3 linked regions of the Homo sapiens genome follow. The protein of the gene in region 1 purifies or fractionates together with the protein of each later gene. This does not show direct contact. Each region holds a gene or a part of one and is shown on either strand. Other genes may lie near its edges.

What was found. Proteins that work in one complex are often made in the same cells at the same time.
Region 2: the proteins of ROGDI (region 1) and WDR7 purify together in Homo sapiens (affinity purification with mass spectrometry; 4 studies listed by BioGRID and IntAct, with this or other methods). This does not show direct contact.
Region 3: the proteins of ROGDI (region 1) and TUBA3C purify together in Homo sapiens (affinity purification with mass spectrometry, with the first as the bait; 3 studies listed by BioGRID). This does not show direct contact.

Annotation. Positions count from the first base shown.
Region 1 is NC_000016.10:4,799,634-4,807,357, reverse strand, and holds the start of ROGDI (protein rogdi homolog), read left to right. Parts: upstream 1-4,724; 5' UTR 4,725-4,786; coding exon 4,787-4,831; intron 4,832-4,904; coding exon 4,905-4,976; intron 4,977-5,772; coding exon 5,773-5,855; intron 5,856-6,036; coding exon 6,037-6,091; intron 6,092-6,779; coding exon 6,780-6,860; intron 6,861-7,576; coding exon 7,577-7,672; intron 7,673-7,724. Other genes in the region: GLYR1 (cytokine-like nuclear factor N-PAC), read left to right, coding at 2,048-2,122.
Region 2 is NC_000018.10:57,025,359-57,030,292, forward strand, and holds the end of WDR7 (WD repeat-containing protein 7), read left to right. Parts: intron 1-1,645; coding exon 1,646-1,849; 3' UTR 1,850-4,434; downstream 4,435-4,934.
Region 3 is NC_000013.11:19,173,272-19,178,824, reverse strand, and holds the end of TUBA3C (tubulin alpha-3C chain), read left to right. Parts: intron 1-430; coding exon 431-579; intron 580-1,217; coding exon 1,218-1,898; intron 1,899-4,665; coding exon 4,666-4,962; 3' UTR 4,963-5,053; downstream 5,054-5,553. UniProt on the Homo sapiens protein: Tubulin is the major constituent of microtubules, a cylinder consisting of laterally associated linear protofilaments composed of alpha- and beta-tubulin heterodimers.

The DNA.
Region 1 (7,724 bases):
GCAGATCACCTGAGGTCAGGAGTTCGAGATCAGCCTGGCCAATATAGTGAAGCCCAGTCTCTACTAAAAATACCAAAAATTAGCCGGGCATAGTGGCGGGCACTATTAATGCCAGCTACTCCGGAGGCTGGGACAGGAGAATCACTTGAACCCAGGAGGCGGAGGTTGCAGTGAGCCGAGATCGTGCCATTGCACTCCAGCCTGGGCGACAGACCAAGACTCCGTCTCAAAAAAAAAAAAAAAAAAAAAAGGGGCCAGGCGCAGTGGCTCACGCCTGTAATCCCAGCACTTTGGGAGGCCGAGGCGGGTGGATCACGAGGTCAGGAGATCAAGACCATCCTGGCTAACAGGGTGAAACCCTGTCTCTACTAAAAATACAAAAAATTAGCCAGGCGTGGTGGCGGGCGCCTGTAGTCCCAGCTACTCGGGAGGCTGAAGCAGGAGAATGGCGTGAACCCGGGAGGCAGAGCAGAGCTGGCAGTGAGCCGAGATCACACCACTGCACTCCAGTCTGGGCGACAGAGCAAGACTCCATCTCAAAAAAAAAAAAAAGAAAAAAGAATTCCAGTTTCATTTATCTATTTTCTTTTTTACTTTGCCTCTGCATTCTTTTTTTAGTGGTTACTCTACAGATTGCGGTATAAATCCTTAAGATAGAGTTAATCTTGCCAGGCACAGTGGCTTATACTTGTGATCCTTGTAATCCTAGCACTTTGGGAGGTCGAGGCAGGGTCGAGGCAGGGTCGAGGCTTAAGCAAGCCCAGGAGTTTGAGACCAGCCTGGGCAACATAGCAAGACCCCCATCTGTACAAAAAAAAATAAAAAACTAGCTGGGCGTGGTGGCGAGCACCCTATTCCTAGCTACTTGGGAGGCTGAGGCAGGTGAGGCAGGAGGATTGCTTGAGCCCAGGAGTTCGAGGCTGCAATGAGCCATGATCCTACCACTGCACTCCAGCCTGGGCAACAGAGCAAGACCCTGTCTCAAGAAAAAAAAAAAAGACAGTTAATCTTGTACCATTTCCCATTAAATGTAAAAACTTTGCAACCACACAGAAGCATTTCTTTCCCCCTTCCTCTCCCTCATCCTTTAAGGCAGGGTTTCTCAACCTCGGCACTGCTGCCATTCTGTGTGGGGGGGCTATCCAAGCACTGCAGGATGTTGGGTAGCCCACCCACCAGACGCCAGTGACATAGCTCCTCCTCAGGTGACAGAAAATGTCTCCAGATATTACCAGATGTCCCCTGGGGGCAGAAGCACCACAGGTGTGAGAACTCTCACTCTGAGGTATAGGTGTCCTGGGTGTTTCATCTGCCCTTGTTTTATTTTTTATTCATTTATTTATTTATTTGAGACAGTTTTGCTCTTTTTTTGTTTTTGAGACAGAGTCTCGCTCTGTCACCCAGACTGGAGTGCAGTGGTGTGATCTCAGCTCACTGCAACCTCCGCCTCCCAGGTTCAAGCTATTCTCCTGCCTCAACCTCCTGAGTAGCTGGGATTACAGGCACCTGCCACCATGCCCGGCTAATTTTTTGTATTTTTTTTTTTTAAAGAAGGGGTTTCACGACGGTCACCAGGCTGGTCTTGATCTCCTGACCTCGTGATTCACCCACCTTGGCCTCCTAAAGTGCTGGGATTACAGGCATGAGCCACTGCGCCTGGCCCTAATTTTTGTATTTTTAGTAGAGATGAGGTTTCACCTTTTTGGCCTGGCTGGTCTCGAACTCCTGACTTCAGGTGATCCACCCACCTCGGCCTTACAGGCATGAGCCGCAGTGCCCGGCCAATGCTGAATGTTTTATATCCCATAGTGTATTTCATTCTCACAAGATCCCCCGGGTACTGTTCCTTCTCCCAGAGCAAGAAGCACAGTGGCTGAGGTCCAGAGAAACGGAGGTGCTTCATGCAAGGTCAACACAGGATTCCTAACCGGACAGCCTGGGCTCCAGCACTGCCTGCTGGCCACATCCACCACTGCCTCCAGGAATCAGGTCTAGGTCTTGAAGGCAGCTCTGGGGCCAGAGACTGAGCCATCTCTTTTTTTTCCAGGTGTACAAAAGAGCCAAGGCGCTGGACCAGTCTGACAACGATATGTCCGCCGTGTACCGAGCCTACATACACTAAGCTGTCGACACCCCGCCCTCACCCCTCCAATCCCCCCTCTGACCCCCTCTTCCTCACATGGGGTCGGGGGCCTGGGAGTTCATTCTGGACCAGCCCACCTATCTCCATTTCCTTTTATACAGACTTTGAGACTTGCCATCAGCACAGCACACAGCAGCACCCTTCCCCTGAGGCCGGTGGGGAGGGGACAAGTGTCAGCAGGATTGGCGTGTGGGAAAGCTCTTGAGCTGGGCACTGGCCCCCCGGACGAGGTGGCTGTGTGTTCACACACACACACACACACACACACACACACACACACAGGCTCTCGCCCCAGGATAGAAGCTGCCCAGAAACTGCTGCCTGGCTTTTTTTCTTCCGAGCTTGTCTTATCTCAAACCCCTTCCAGTCAAGGAACTAGAATCAGCAACGAGAGTTGGAAGCCTTCCCACAGCTTCCCCCAGAGCGAAGAGGCTGTAGTCATGTCCCCATCCCCCACTGGATTCCCTACAAGGAGAGGCCTTGGGCCCAGATGAGCCAGTACAGACTCCAGACAGAGGGGCCCTTGGGGCCCTCCAACCTCAGGTGATGAGCTGAGAAAGATGTTCACGTCTAAGCGTCCAGTGTGCACCCAGCGCTCCATAGACGCCTTTGTGAACTGAAAAGAGACTGGCAGAGTCCCGAGAAGATGGGGCCCTGGCTTTCCAGGGAGTGCAGCAAGCAGCCGGCCTGCAGGTGAGCATGGAGGCCCGGCCCTCACCGCCTCGAAGCCATGCCCCAGATGCCACTGCCACAGCGGGCGCTCGCTCCTCCCTAGGCTGTTTTAGTATTTGGATTTGCATTCCATCCCTTGGGAGGGAGTCCTCAGGGCCACTAGTGATGAGCCAAGAGGAGTGGGGGTTGGGGGCGCTCCTTTCTGTTTCCGTTAGGCCACAGACTCTTCACCTGGCTCTGAAGAGCCACTCTTACCTCGGTCCCCTCCCAGTGGTCCCACCTTCTCCACCCTGCCCTGCCAAGTCCCCTGCATGCCCACCGCTCTCCATCCTCCCTCCTCTCCCTCTTCCTCCCGTGGAGACAGTATTTCTTTCTGTCTGTCCCTTTGGCCCAGACCCAGCCTGACCAACGATGAGCATTTCTTAGGCTCAGCTCTTGATACGGAAACGAGTGTCTTCACTCCAGCCAGCATCATGGTCTTCGGTGCTTCCCGGGCCCGGGGTCTGTCGGGAGGGAAGAGAACTGGGCCTGACCTACCTGAACTGACTGGCCCTCCGAGGTGGGTCTGGGACATCCTAGAGGCCCTACATTTGTCCTTGGATAGGGGACCGGGGGGGGCTTGGAATGTTGCAAAAAAAAAAGTTACCCAAGGGATGTCAGTTTTTTATCCCTCTGCATGGGTTGGATTTTCCAAAATCATAATTTGCAGAAGGAAGGCCAGCATTTACGATGCAATATGTAATTATATATAGGGTGGCCACACTAGGGCGGGGTCCTTCCCCCCTCACAGCTTTGGCCCCTTTCAGAGATTAGAAACTGGGTTAGAGGATTGCAGAAGACGAGTGGGGGGAGGGCAGGGAAGATGCCTGTCGGGTTTTTAGCACAGTTCATTTCACTGGGATTTTGAAGCATTTCTGTCTGAACACAAAGCCTGTTCTAGTCCTGGCGGAACACACTGGGGGTGGGGGCGGGGGAAGATGCGGTAATGAAACCGGTTAGTCAATTTTGTCTTAATATTGTTGACAATTCTGTAAAGTTCCTTTTTATGAATATTTCTGTTTAAGCTATTTCACCTTTCTTTTGAAATCCTTCCCTTTTAAGGAGAAAATGTGACACTTGTGAAAAAGCTTGTAAGAAAGCCCCTCCCTTTTTTCTTTAAACCTTTAAATGACAAATCTAGGTAATTAAGGTTGTGAATTTTTATTTTTGCTTTGTTTTTAATGAACATTTGTCTTTCAGAATAGGATTGTGTGATAATGTTTAAATGGCAAAAACAAAACATGATTTTGTGCAATTAACAAAGCTACTGCAAGAAAAATAAAACACTTCTTGGTAACACAGCTGTGCCGCAGGAGTCCTGCTTCCCTCGTCCTCGGCGAGATGGGTGGGAGGAGAAGGCAGCGGCGGGGCCGGGGTGGGTTTTCGGGACCTCCGCGTCCGGGGTGAGACGGACTTGGGAGTGGCGGCGAGGTCCGCGGCAGGGTTGGAACCACGACCAATGGAGCCAAGCGGGCCAATAGGGAGGAGGAGCGGGGACAGACTGTCCTGCCGGCCAATGAGTGAGCGCGAGTGGAGCAGAGCGCCCTATCATATCCTGGGGGCGCCCCGGGAGCTCCGCCCCCAAGCGGGCGCCCCAGGCTGGTGCCGGCCGCGTCCCTGGCCAGCCGGAGCAAGCCTGACTCGTGCAGCCGCCGGCCGCGTCCCTGGCCAGGCGGAGCGAGCCTCACTCCCGCAGCCGCCAGTCTGGTTCCAGGGCTCCCGCAGGTTTCGGGGGCCGAGGCGGACCGACAGGCGCCAGCCAATCGCGAGCACGGAGCCGGCCTGGGGGCGGGGTGGTACCCGCTCCGCCAATCGGGTGGGGGCGGAGCCAGACGCCGGGGGCGGACGGGAGGACCGGAGGACCGAGGACAGAAAGATTGGTGGACAGGAGCAGCGGCCGGTGGGGAGGGCGCTCGGCGGCGGCCTGCGGCCATGGCCACCGTGATGGCAGCGACGGCGGCGGAGCGGGCGGTGCTGGTAAGGCGCGCGGGCCAGCGGGCGGGCCGGCGGGGCGGCGGGGCCGGGCGCGACCGCCGGGTCTGTCCCGCAGGAGGAGGAGTTCCGCTGGCTGCTGCACGACGAGGTGCACGCTGTGTTGAAGCAGCTGCAGGACATCCTCAAGGTAACGACCCGCGCCCTGCCCCGCCGGGCGTGGCGGCCCTCCCTCCTCATTTCCCTGGCTCCACCTGGGGCCGCGCGGCTGCGTCCTGAGCGCCTACAGTGTGCGGCTGCCGCGGCTTTCAGGCAGGGCCCCGCCTCCGCGAACTCGAGCCGACCTCATTATATAAGTACCTGTGTGCGGGCAGGGGCGGGTCCCGACGAGGGTGCTAGCAAGGGCCTGAGTCCCGCCCGGCCTCGGGTCGGGGAAGGCCGCCTTGGGAGCAGCGGCATCCAATCTGGGAGCCGAAGAATTCTGCCTCTGCCTGGCAGTGTGACTTCAGCCAAGTCACTGAACCTCCCTGGGCCTCCCTTTTCTCATTGGCAAAAGGGAGATAACAGTACCCGCTTCGCGAGGCTGGGGTGTAGATAAATGAGCCAGGCAGCTCACAGAAGTAACCGGCGTAGTGCTTGCTGTGGCCCAGGACCGCGGGTTACCATAACTACTGCCTTGTTCCCTGACTCTGCCCCTTGCCCCTTTCCCCCTCAACCAAGCTGGGAGGCTGCCCCTGTCTGTTTTGTATTCCCCGAGGCGGGCACACAGGAGGTGTTCAGGGAATGTGGTATAAGCAGAGATCGGGCTCACGGTTAGGTGCCCTGGGGGCTTGGGCAGGGTCTTCCCACCCCAGCTGAACCCAGGTGAGGCCAGGCCACGTTGTTCCTTCCCCCCGCTGACTTGGAGGGAGGGGGGCTTCTGGAAGGAGCACTGGGCCGGGCCTGAGTGGGCGCTACCAGCTCCCCTCCTTCCCTCTGTTCCACAGGAGGCCTCTCTGCGCTTCACTCTGCCGGGCTCCGGCACTGAGGGGCCCGCCAAGCAAGAGAACTTCATCCTAGGCAGCTGTGGGTGAGCCTGGGCTAGGCGGAAACCGGGGAAATGGGTACCTTGGGGGGTAGGAGGCATGGCCATAGCCCTGTCCTGCAGACCAGCTGGTTGTGCGATGGGACAGGAGGGGCAGCCCGCCGGGAGGGAGGGCTGGGTGGTGGGGGGGTGACCACAGGCACCGCTCTGACGCCACATGTTACAGCACAGACCAGGTGAAGGGTGTGCTGACTCTGCAGGGGGATGCCCTCAGCCAGGCGGTGAGTCCCCCGGCCCTGTCCCCTCCCATCCTGCCAATGGGGAAGAGCATGGGAGCTCCCACTTTCTCTCTGTACAAGCCCTGCGACTCTGGGCGGGACCCTTGATCTCTCTGGCCTCAGTTTTCTCCTTTGGAAAATGACAGCAACCCTCACACCTTCTCCCGGGATCGGTGTGCAGATTCAGTAAGAGGTGCAGGAGAGGGGTTCTTTGCACACGGCCTGGCCTGGCGTCCGGACCAGTGAAACATGGGCATTGGTGGATTAGGCTGGCCACACATCACAGTTGAATCAGCCAATGCCTGAACTCCAGTCTGCACCCGACTCTGTGCCAGGCACCAAGGCGTGGGGGGAGGCCCCCCTCCTGGGCTCCATCTGTTGCCCTTTGTAGACACTAGATGCACCCCGTTCGCACAGAGCCTCACAGAGGCTGCCTTTCCTCTTCCCCTTCCCCTTTCTTCACCTCTTTCCATTTCACTTCTTTGTGGCTCTTCTTGGGCCTGGTTTCCTGTTTCCTGACCTCCCTGTTCAACCCCCAAACGGCCAAGGCATTGGGAGACCCTCTGCCCTATACAGCGGCCAAGGCCTGAACCACCACACACCCCATTTCTGCCCTGGGCTTAAGGGCTCAGAGTGGCTGTGGCAGGAGGTGCCCCCCCACTGCCCAGCTCACCCCACTCTTGCCTGTCAGGATGTGAACCTGAAGATGCCCCGGAACAACCAGCTGCTGCACTTCGCCTTCCGGGAGGACAAGCAGTGGAAGCTGCAGCAGGTGACCCCGCCCCTCCTGGCTAGTGCTCAGCCACAAGGACAGGCGGCAGCAGGCCTGCCGCGGGGCCTCCCTGGAGAGGGACTAGCCCTGGGGATCTGTGGCCACAGCAAGCCTGGGAGGGTGTTTCCTAACAGCAAAGCTGGGGGCAGGCGTTTCCTGAAGCCCTGGAGGCTGCGCCATGTGGGGAGGTAGAGAACCTGGCCTGAGAGCCCCGAGGGCCACATCGGGACTGTGGAGTCCCCACAGCAGCTGGCTGGATGAGATGGTTCAGAAGCCCTCTGAAAAGTCACTCCCTTGCCCAGAGCCTCCAGGGACTTGCCATGGCTCTGGGGATGAGGCCCATGCTCCCTGGCAGCTCCTGTACCAATGGGCCCCAGCCTCCTCCCCTGCCCCCTCCACCCCGACTGTCTCCATCTCAGCACCCTTGCCCCTGCCTTGTCGCCCTGTTTGCTTCCCTCCGCAACTCGCACAGACTCTTGTCTTGGGCATTACTGTGTGTCCATCCCTTAGAAAGGAGGGGGCAGTCAGCTTGGGCAGAGACCAGGCCTGCCCCAGGTGATGCCAGATGCCCATCACCTGGCGTGGACCTGGCCCTCTGGGGCACAGGGATGACAGTGTGGAGAGTGGAATGACGTGGGGCAGGCAGGCAGCACCCACTCTCCCCTCCTGGCCGCATGGAAGCTGGCGTGACCCCTCTGGATGACCCCTGCTTCCAGATCCAGGATGCCAGAAACCATGTGAGCCAAGCCATTTACCTGCTTACCAGCCGGGACCAGAGCTACCAGTTCAAGACGGGCGCTGAGGTCCTCAAGGTGAGCTGCCCCCGGGCCTGACTCCTGGGCCTAGTCCCACGTTCTTGATCCG
Region 2 (4,934 bases), on another chromosome or scaffold:
ATTAAGCTCATCATCATTATTTATATTTTAACTATTTGGGAACATCCAAGAAAGCAATAAGGCATTGATTTTTATCTTCTGTGAAGTTTTTGGGAAAAGGAGAGAAGGAAGCAAAGAAACACGCTTCTGAAAGGGTGACAGTAAGGAACTGCCTGGCTGGAAACAGGAACCGAACTTTAACAGAAAGAGTTAACAATAACCATACATTTGGTTTTAAAATGTGACCTCGTACACTAGTGATTTTTTTTCACCTCTGTGTTGTGTTCAGCGCTATTATTAATGCAGGAAAATCAGTAACATTAGTCATCTTAAAAGGGTTATTACTCAAGATGATTTAAATTGTGAAAATGTCAGTGGAGCCTGCACACACTCTGCTAGAGATGCCATGATTTACGCCCTCTGACACCATCCTGCTGCTGAGAAGGGCTAGAAAAAGGAATGGCTTGTGTTTTGCACTGATCCACATGCAGGGGATGATGTCAGTGATAACGCATCTTAAATGTCCTAGGATTTGCCAGAGTTTCATGGATCAACCATTTGTAGATGTTGGATCATAATCTGCATGCTTCATGCAAATCTCTAGAATCTTACATCGAGATGGAGGTTATACTGGAGAGAAGCATTGGAAATGAAAATTAGTACAAAGAAAAAGTGTTATTTCCAAGGCTTCTTTCCAGATTTTCAGTATTCTTTCCATGTGATATTATAATAGCACACATAATGCTATTGAAGATATTTTAAGTAATATTTAGAATCTAAAGAAATCTTCAGACTCAGTTGCTTAGGAAACAGTTCACTTAGACAGCTACCATTCAGTATTTAGTACTTCAACCTGAATGCATAGTTGTTCATGATTCATAATTTCCATGTTGTTTTTCATTTATGTGGCTGGATTAAGAAAACCTAAAATTTAAATCCAGAAAAACTGCCAAAAAGCAGAAGTTATCAATTGATAAAAAGGTATTGTCAATAAAATATTAACAGCAGACTCTCCTTAGTATGATAGCAAAACAGTGAGGCACAGACATAGTGTTGAGATGAAATTGATTCTGGTTCTGCACTTTATAATAAGCAAGAGCTTTCCAGAAAGCGAGTTTTTAAAAAGCAAGTGAAGAGTGAAGGTATTAGTAGGTGGGAAATGGGGGTGGAAGGGAGTCTTGAGCTTTATTTGATCCAATTGTCACTCTATCTACTGCTTAACTTTGCTTCCTTTTCTTGAACTAATTACAAATCCCAAAACTTGTCTTCGCTGACTCATCCTTCAGGGAGTGAGTGCAGTTAGCATTGTGGTAAAGAACATGAAAGTCTTCAGTTTTAAATATCCACAATTTCCAAATATCTGTGTTGTCTAAATGAACCATTTTATTAAGAGGTATAATTTAGCCCTCTTCCTAAAGATCCATGGACTCTCCTTTTGTCAGGTTCTACCCCTATAAAATTCCTCTAGATTTCTGCATTTACCATAACAGCATCGGAACAATTCCAAGCACACTGAAAGGAACTTTTGAGAGGTTAAGAACAAGCTTAGGTGAAGGAGAATAACCATGATGGAGGGGAAAGTAGCCAGGAGAGATCGACCCAGTCTCTGTGATAGGGAAAGGGAGAGGGCTGTTCAAGTGACACATGTGCTCTCCTGTCCCTCCAGATGAACACGTCACTGCTGGGAAGCATCGGCATGCTGAACTCGGCACCTCAGCTGCGCTGCATTAAAACCTACCAGGTGCCCCCTGTGCAGCCCGCGTCCCCCGGCTCCCACAATGCCCTCAAGCTGGCCCGGCTCATCTGGACTTCCAACCGCAACGTCATCCTCATGGCCCATGACGGGAAGGAGCACCGCTTCATGGTCTAATGCTGCTGCCTGCCGCCGTGACTGCGTTTTAGTTCTCTAAATTATCCAAGCCGATGTTGCTCTGTCCTTCCTCACACCAGATTGTTCCCAGGGGCCTGCCCACCCCAGTGCCATCCAGTGGCACGGCCGGGTCTTGTCACTTGTGCATGCTTCTCAGGGGCAGAACCCGCTCGTGCCATCTGTCGATTCAGAGGCACGCACACATGCTCTGCAGGATGTGGCCATCCTGTCACCAGGTAGTTTTTCCCTGCCAGAGATGGCAGGGGAAAGCCAGTGGTTCCTGGGAACGCTCTTGTTGCTTGGTGCAACAGAAGCACAAAAATCAATAAACACTGTGATTGCACTCCCAGCCCAGATCAGCATTTTTAGCCATCTCAACCGCACCTCTGAAGTGCTGCTTGAATCTGGCCGTTCTGACACTGGGTGTTGAGGTCATGTGGCAGTCCTCACGATTGAAATTATTGCCCTTTGAATTACCTAAAATATTGTTTACCAAAAAGATTCTGTGTTTACATGTTCTTTTCTTCTGGTGATTGCTAGGAAATTACTCAATCCAATTTCCTAGGGTTTAGCTACCACCTTCTTTATCAACAGCTAACCAATTTGAGATTCATGATTAATTATGTACACAAAAATATTTTCCTTGTAGAAAATAGTTTTCCAGACACTTAGCCTTCTGAAGTGCTCATCTCTTGCTTAAATGATAGTCTATTTAGTAGTTTAAAATAAAAATAATCACTCCCTATGATCTAGTTAATGTAATTATCCAGTCACTGTAACTAATCTCTTGAAGGGACTTTTGTGATAAAGAGCCAAGTTCAGAAGCATAGCGTGTACCGAAAATGAAGACTCTCCTATCTACTGCTACAGATCCTGTTGAAGAAAGAGCTTACCCCTTTCCCCCGGAAAACTTGCAATCCTGTAGTTCCCATATGTGTGGCATATGTCAGTTATGAAATTATTATAATTCAGCCTTCAAACTACTACTGATCAACTAAAGGAAAGCTAATAAGGTATTTCTTTTAAACAAGTATTCTGGAAAAGTAATAACTATGGCACAAATGTTCAGGAGTGTATATAAAAATATGTGGGCTCTCGATTTATTTGAGCAAACATTGCAATGAGGGTGTTCATTATGCTTCTAAGTAAGCTTTAACTAGACCACTTTCTTCTTATGTCAGATTGTGCTGGTTCTAGCTCATAATAATGAAAAAAATAGAATTATATTTTGTATGAATTGTTTCTAACAAACCTTGATCTGTATATACTTGTGAGGGGTTGTTTGGTTGCCTAATTGTTGATTGGTTGGTTAGTTGGGCAAAATCATTTATTACATGCAAAAATAGAAAATTATTTGTTAAATTCAGAGAAAATATGTGAAGTTTACAAAGGAACCAAAATGATAATGGGAGAATTTAGTCTTAAAAGTTTAGGTTGTCAGAGTTTATCTGATATACAAAAAAGTAGGATCAAAGTCTAGGAACAAACATTGGTTATTTCACTGAAACAGATTTTTAAAGAGCATATTAAGAAATTAAGACCATTAGATCATCTCTTTCATAATGATATGATGTTATTTCCATTGACGGCAAATCTATACTGTTCCTTGGTTTTAGAGTTGGGTATTCTTTCAAAAGTGAATTTAGGCACATGCATGTACATTGTATTTATAAAGATTATATATGTAGTTTCCAAGGAAGAAACAAAGACCTATACAGTTTAGACTTTATTTGTTTGGTGAACGTGCTGTTGTGTTTGGCATAGCTAGAGAAATGTAAGGTAAAAGGCTCACTTTGTTTTCCAGTGGGTCCAGAGTCTTCTCTATACCCAACATATGTTTACTTTATGAACTTAAATGGAAATTAATTTATTGTAGACTACATCTCTATTTGGAATGATGAGGTAAATGTATACCTTAGCATTTTCTTTAACAAAAATGTTCTGTGTGTCAGGAAAGAGGTGTGAGAGTGGTAGGCAGCCTGCCGCAAACACACGGATGGCTCCCCCCGCCACGAAGGTTGAGAACAAAGCCAGGGGGCCCAGAGGAGCAATAGCCCTGGGCCACAAGCGTGGGTAGGCCTTTCACGTATTCCGTCTGCACAGGCAACCAAGGCCAGTAGAAAGCTATGGCTGCAAAACCCTGGGGTGGACGATGTTTGATGATTAGACGGTCATCTCTAACTACTAAACTAATATCTGCATTCTTGTTAACATAAATCTCTCCTTGGCTATTTTAATAGCCACAGTCCCAAACTTCATCCCAGCTTAGATTTCTCAGCACTGAGGTAAACTCTGCATTGTCATCCCAGCGTACACCTTTAATGTTTTATTGATTTCACTGGCACTGTATTTGGACCTGTCCTTGTATATGTAGAGACATATGTGGCTTCATTGGTAATTTACAAGCAAAAGATGACATGACGTGACACCTGTATGAAAATGTGATGATTGAACTCCCTGTGTACAGCGAGTGAATTAAAATGTCTGCCTCTCCAGACATTTCTTAATGATTCCACTTAATAGACTCTATGTGTGCTGAATGTTCCTGTGTACATATGTGTGTTAAATAAAACAATTGTATTGAAGACTGTTTTTCTCACAATATTACCTTTTCCAGTGTTCACTCATCTTAAACATCCTCAGTTGAAATCCGTATGCTCCGCTAGCCCTGCTGCTTCTAATCATTCATTTCCCTGGAGAGCTGGCTTGGGAAAGGCAACTTATTCCCAGAGGACAGTAGAGCAGAAGTGCAGAGGTAAGCTCTCCCTCCAGAAACTCACTGGCACTCTCTGTGGTTTGGGAAAGGCGTTGCATGCCTGTTGCTTTATCTCTACTCTACATGCTCCCAAATAGACTGGTAATGGCACCAAATCATATCTTGTCAGATTGGATGGCATGGGTTGGCTGCCTCTCGGGAGCTAGGCTGAGATCATCAAGTTCATTGCATTTCACGCTCAGTTTGGAGTCGAATTTGAATCCCTCAGGTAAAGGGTATAATTGGTTTTCAGAAAAATCAAGAATAATAAAATAGGTCCTTACTGCTCATAGAGGGTTATGTGTAAGTAGTGAATGTACTTCTTGTCTC
Region 3 (5,553 bases), on another chromosome or scaffold:
CACACAGGGTGCCCTGATGGGACTGCCCTGCAGAAGTCACACTGACCTGGTGACTTCTCAGTTTGTAAGCATTTTTAACTTACAGCCTTCGATGTAGCTACATGTAGGAAAGAATTATGTACCTGTAGAATTACCTGTGTGGGGGTGCTGGAGCTTATTTCCCTTCACTGGGAGCTGGTCGTGCTGACATTTATATTGTAAGCTGAGTTTCACTTCCTAGAGTCATAAATCACAGTTTGGTTATCACACATTTGCACTTTGGTTATCACACAGAGACATTTTCTACCAGACACTGCCACTGTTGACCTACAACATGTAGGTCATGTACTTTGAACAGCATGTACTTTGTAGAAGTGAACAGTCCTGGAATGTGTCCATCTTGGTGAGTATAGGCCTTAAAGATTCACAGTACATACGGTCTCTTTTGTAGATGAAGTGCGCACAGGAACCTATAGGCAGCTCTTCCACCCAGAGCAGCTGATCACCGGGAAGGAAGATGCGGCCAATAATTACGCCAGAGGCCATTACACCATCGGCAAGGAGATCGTCGACCTGGTCCTGGACCGGATCCGCAAACTGGTAAGAAGAGAAGGCTTCATGTGACCATTGTCCTGCACAGGAGGGTAGATCTTAGATTGTGAAGGGGAGGTCATTTTGTCAAAACCTAGACCAGTGCGTTGGCTGGGTCTGGTGGCTCACGCCTGTAATCCCAACACTTTGGGAGGCCAAGGTGGGCAGTCACCTGAAGTCAAGAGTTTGAGACCAGCCTGGCCAACGTGGTGAAACCCTGTCTTTACTAAAAATACACACATTAGTCAGGCGTGGTGGTGCCTGCCTGTAGTCCCAGCTACTCAGGAAGCTGAGGCAGGAGAATGGCTTGAGCCCGGGAGGCAGAGGTTGCACTGAGCGGAGTTCATGCCACTGCCCTCCGGCCTGGGCAACAGAGTGAGATTCTATCTAAAAAAAAAAAAAAAAAAACAACTTAGAACAGTATCTTGAGTCCTATTGCGTCTGCAATGGTCTTAGTCTGAAGTATGCATGGTGATTTGTCTGTAGATCTTTGTCTGCTTTTCTTTGCTTCAGAGTGTACTGCGTGTTTATTATGGATGATTGGAATCCATATCAAGTCTTCAGAGGCAGAGAAGTGGCCCTGGCTTGGTGGAGGTTGGTGGTGTGGCTTCCACGGGCATTGATTCATGTTGTCTGGTTTCCCTCAGGCGGATCTGTGCACGGGACTGCAGGGCTTCCTCATCTTCCACAGTTTTGGGGGTGGCACTGGCTCTGGGTTCGCATCTCTGCTCATGGAGCGGCTCTCAGTGGATTACGGCAAGAAGTCCAAGCTAGAATTTGCCATTTACCCAGCCCCCCAGGTCTCCACGGCCGTGGTGGAGCCCTACAACTCCATCCTGACCACCCACACGACCCTGGAACATTCTGACTGTGCCTTCATGGTCGACAATGAAGCCATCTATGACATATGTCGGCGCAACCTGGACATCGAGCGTCCCACGTACACCAACCTCAATCGCCTGATTGGGCAGATCGTGTCCTCCATCACGGCCTCCCTGCGATTTGACGGGGCCCTGAATGTGGACTTGACGGAATTCCAGACCAACCTAGTGCCGTACCCCCGCATCCACTTCCCCCTGGCCACCTACGCCCCGGTCATCTCAGCCGAGAAGGCCTACCACGAGCAGCTGTCCGTGGCTGAGATCACCAATGCCTGCTTCGAGCCAGCCAATCAGATGGTCAAGTGTGACCCTCGCCACGGCAAGTACATGGCCTGCTGCATGTTGTACAGGGGGGATGTGGTCCCGAAAGATGTCAACGCGGCCATCGCCACCATCAAGACCAAGCGCACCATCCAGTTTGTAGATTGGTGCCCAACTGGATTTAAGGTATGACTGGGTAATGTGGAGTCCTTGTACCTTTCAGCAAGCAACAGACACACAGAGTAATGCTGCCCCTGAAGGCCCACATCCTTTGAGGATACTACCCCTATTCCATGGGCTAGGCATGTGGGCATCAATTAGTGAACCAGAGTGATCATTAATTCAGTGATGTCTTTTTTTTTTTTTTTTTTTTTTTTTTTTTTTTTTGAGGCAGAGTCTAGCTTTGTCGCCCAGGCTGGAGTAAAGTGGTGTGATCTCAGCTCACTGCAATCTCCATCAGCCTCCCAAGTAGCTGGAATTACAGGCACCCACCACCACACCCAGTTAATTTTTATATTTTTAGTAGAAACAGGGTTATGCCATGTTGGCCAGGCTGGTCTTGAACTCCTGACCTCAGGTGAGCCACCCACCTTGGCCACCCAAAGTGCTGGGGTTAGAGGCGTGAGCCACTGTGCCTGGCCCAGTGATGTCTTTTGAACTCTTTCTAAGTCATTACACTATGTATCTGTGATGAGCTTTACTTACTTACTTTGTTGTTGAGAAGGCTGGAGTGCAGTGGTGTGATCTCGGTTCACTGCAACCTCTGCTTCCCAGGCTCAAGTGATTCTCTCACCTCAGCCTCCTGAGTAGCTGGGACCACAGACATGCACCACTACACCCAGCTAATTTTTGTGTATTTAGTAAAGGGATTTCACCATGTTGGCCAAGCTGGTCTCAAATTCCTGGTCTTAAGTGATCTGCTTGTCTTAGCCTCCCAAAATGTTGGGATTACGGGCATGAGCCACTGTGCTCAACCCTATTTATTTACTTTTTTGAGACAGAATCCCACCTGTCACCCAGGCTGGAGTGCAGTGTGGTGATCACAGCTCTCCACTAAAAATACAAAAATTGGATGGGCATGGTGGCCCATGCCTATAATCCAGCACTTTGGGAGGCCAAGGCAGGCGGATCACCTGAGGTCAGGAGTTTGACACCAGCCTGGCCAACAGGGCAAAATCCCGTGTCTACTAAAAATACAAAAATTAGCCGGGTATGGTGGCGGGCACCTGTAATCCCAGCTACTGAGGAGGCTGAGGCAGGAGAATCACTGGGACCCAGGAGGTGGAGGTTGCAGTGAGAAGATATCACTCCACTGCACTCCAGCCTGGGTGACAGCACAAGACTCTGTCTCAAAAAAAGAAAAAAAGACAAGATCATACAAATTCTAGGCCTTACAGGTTACACGACCTCTGTCACACCTACCCCACTCTGCTGTCGGATAGCAAAATCAATCTGCAAATGAAGGGGTGTGGTGGCTGTGTTCAGACAAGATCTTACAAAATTAGGTGGCTAGTCCAGCAGCTGTGCTAACCCCTGAAGGAGAAGAAGAGACACCCACAGTAGGAAATCCCAGTCAGAACTGACTGCAGTGGTCTCCCCCAACAGAGACGGTGGGGGTCTGAGCCAGAGGCAGCAGGGAAAGCACAGCACAAGAACGCACAGGCCCAACAGAGAAATGCCACAAGATTTAGTAACCAACTATTGATAAAGCTGAAAGAGGACAGCAAGGTTTCTTTTGTGTCAGTGGAAGGTGGGGACAGATTTTGTGTCTGAGGCAAACCCAGGCCAAAATTACTAGGCTTCCCGGAAAAGAAATAAAGACGTTGCTGCTTTTTGTTTTGTTTTGTTTTGTTTTGTTTTTGAGACGGAGTCTTGCTGTGTCGCCCAGGCTGGAGTGCAGTGGCGTGATCTTGGCTCACTGCAAGCTCCGCCTCCTGGGTTCATGCCATTCTCCCGCCTCAGCCTCCCGAGTAGCTGGGACTACAGGCGCCCGCCACCACACCCGGCTAATTTTGTTTTTGTATTTTTAGTAGAGACCGGGTTTCACCATGTTAGCTAGGATGGTCTCGATCTCCTGACCTCGTGATCTGTCCACCTCGGCCTGCCAAAGTGCTGGGATTACAGGTGTGGGTCACCGTGCCCGGCCTTTTAATTTTTTTGAGACAGGGTCTTGCTCTGTCACCCAAGGAGTGGTAGGATCTCAGCTCATTGGAACCTCTGCCCTCCAGGCTCAAGCAATCCTCCCACCTCAGCCTCCTGAGTAGCTGGGACCACAGGTGCATGACACCATGCCCAGCTAATTTTTTTGTATTTTTGGTAGAGACAGGGTCTTGCCATACTGCCCAGGCTGGTCTCAAACTCAGTTCAAGAAATCCACCTTGGCCTCCCAAAGAGCTGGGATAATGGGTGTGAGCCACTGCACCTGTTGCTGTTTTCATCACAAACAACTCATTCTTTTTTTAAATCAAACCCTACATGAGACAGTGGAACGAATGATGTTGTGAAGCAGTTTATAGTAATGCCCAAGTTAAAATAAAATATATACACCACCTACAAGATTCCCCAAAATGCCCATAAAATTACTAAGTTCAACCTACCTTTTCCACATGAATTCTACCACCCAAGAAAGGGGCACAAAAATCCTTTAGAAAATACCTTATTCTTAAAAAAAAAAAAAAATGCTGGGCATGCTGCCTCATGACTGTAATCCTAGCACTTTGGGAGGCTGGGGTGGGTGGATCGATTGGGCCCAGGAGTTTGAGGCCAGCCTGGGCAACATATGTTGTCTGGAACTGTCACCCTGCCTGGCACAGAGAAGGGCTTAGTGACATTTGTGGGGTGAACTGAGAATTCTCCTGTTCACCTACAGGGTGTCTTCTTTTTGAGGAAAAGCAGCCACCATTTCCAGGTTTGATATAAGCTTCATGGACTGTTTCTTCCTCTTCTCCGGCAGGTGGGCATTAACTACCAGCCCCCCACGGTGGTCCCTGGGGGAGACCTGGCCAAGGTGCAGCGGGCTGTGTGCATGCTGAGCAACACCACGGCCATCGCGGAGGCCTGGGCTCGCCTGGACCATAAGTTCGATCTCATGTATGCCAAGCGGGCCTTTGTGCACTGGTACGTGGGAGAAGGCATGGAGGAGGGGGAGTTCTCTGAGGCCCGCGAGGACCTGGCAGCTCTGGAGAAGGATTATGAAGAGGTGGGCGTGGATTCCGTGGAAGCCGAGGCTGAAGAAGGTGAAGAATACTGAGGGGAGGGTGTGGTGGGTTCTCCACTCCACTGCCACCCCCAGCGTGGCTGCTTTCAAGTTCTTTGCAATTAAAGGTTCTGTATAAAACCAAGACCTCTGTGTATCGTACTGCCTAGCTTTGCCTGCAGGAGCAGGTGGGACCCCCAGAGCCTGCATGGACAGTGGTGGGGTGCCAGCCTGCCCTGCTAGCATGGAGTTGGGTGCAGCGGGATGGTACATACTTAAGGAGCTGCCACAGAAGTAACTTGACACGGAGAAATAGATTTCCTAAATTCTAGGAAAGCACAGTCAGGGTTTTCAACTGAATTTGCAACTTTGGGGGCTTTTCTATTGATGGGTGATGCGAGCTACAAAGAAGAGTCTAGACATGGAGTGTTTAAATCTGAGGTCTGTGGATGGGGCTTGTCCATGAAATCCCTAAAGCTGTGGGTCAAATGTGTAAGGTCAGGACATTTTAGAAGGGAAAGAGTGTTACTGTGTTCTGCACAGCATTCGTGACCCATAGAAGGTTACAACACACCCAGCCTTCCACAGTAACCTGGAAGACAGCATTTGCCCTCCGTGCACACACACGGCCACTCTGCCCCTCAG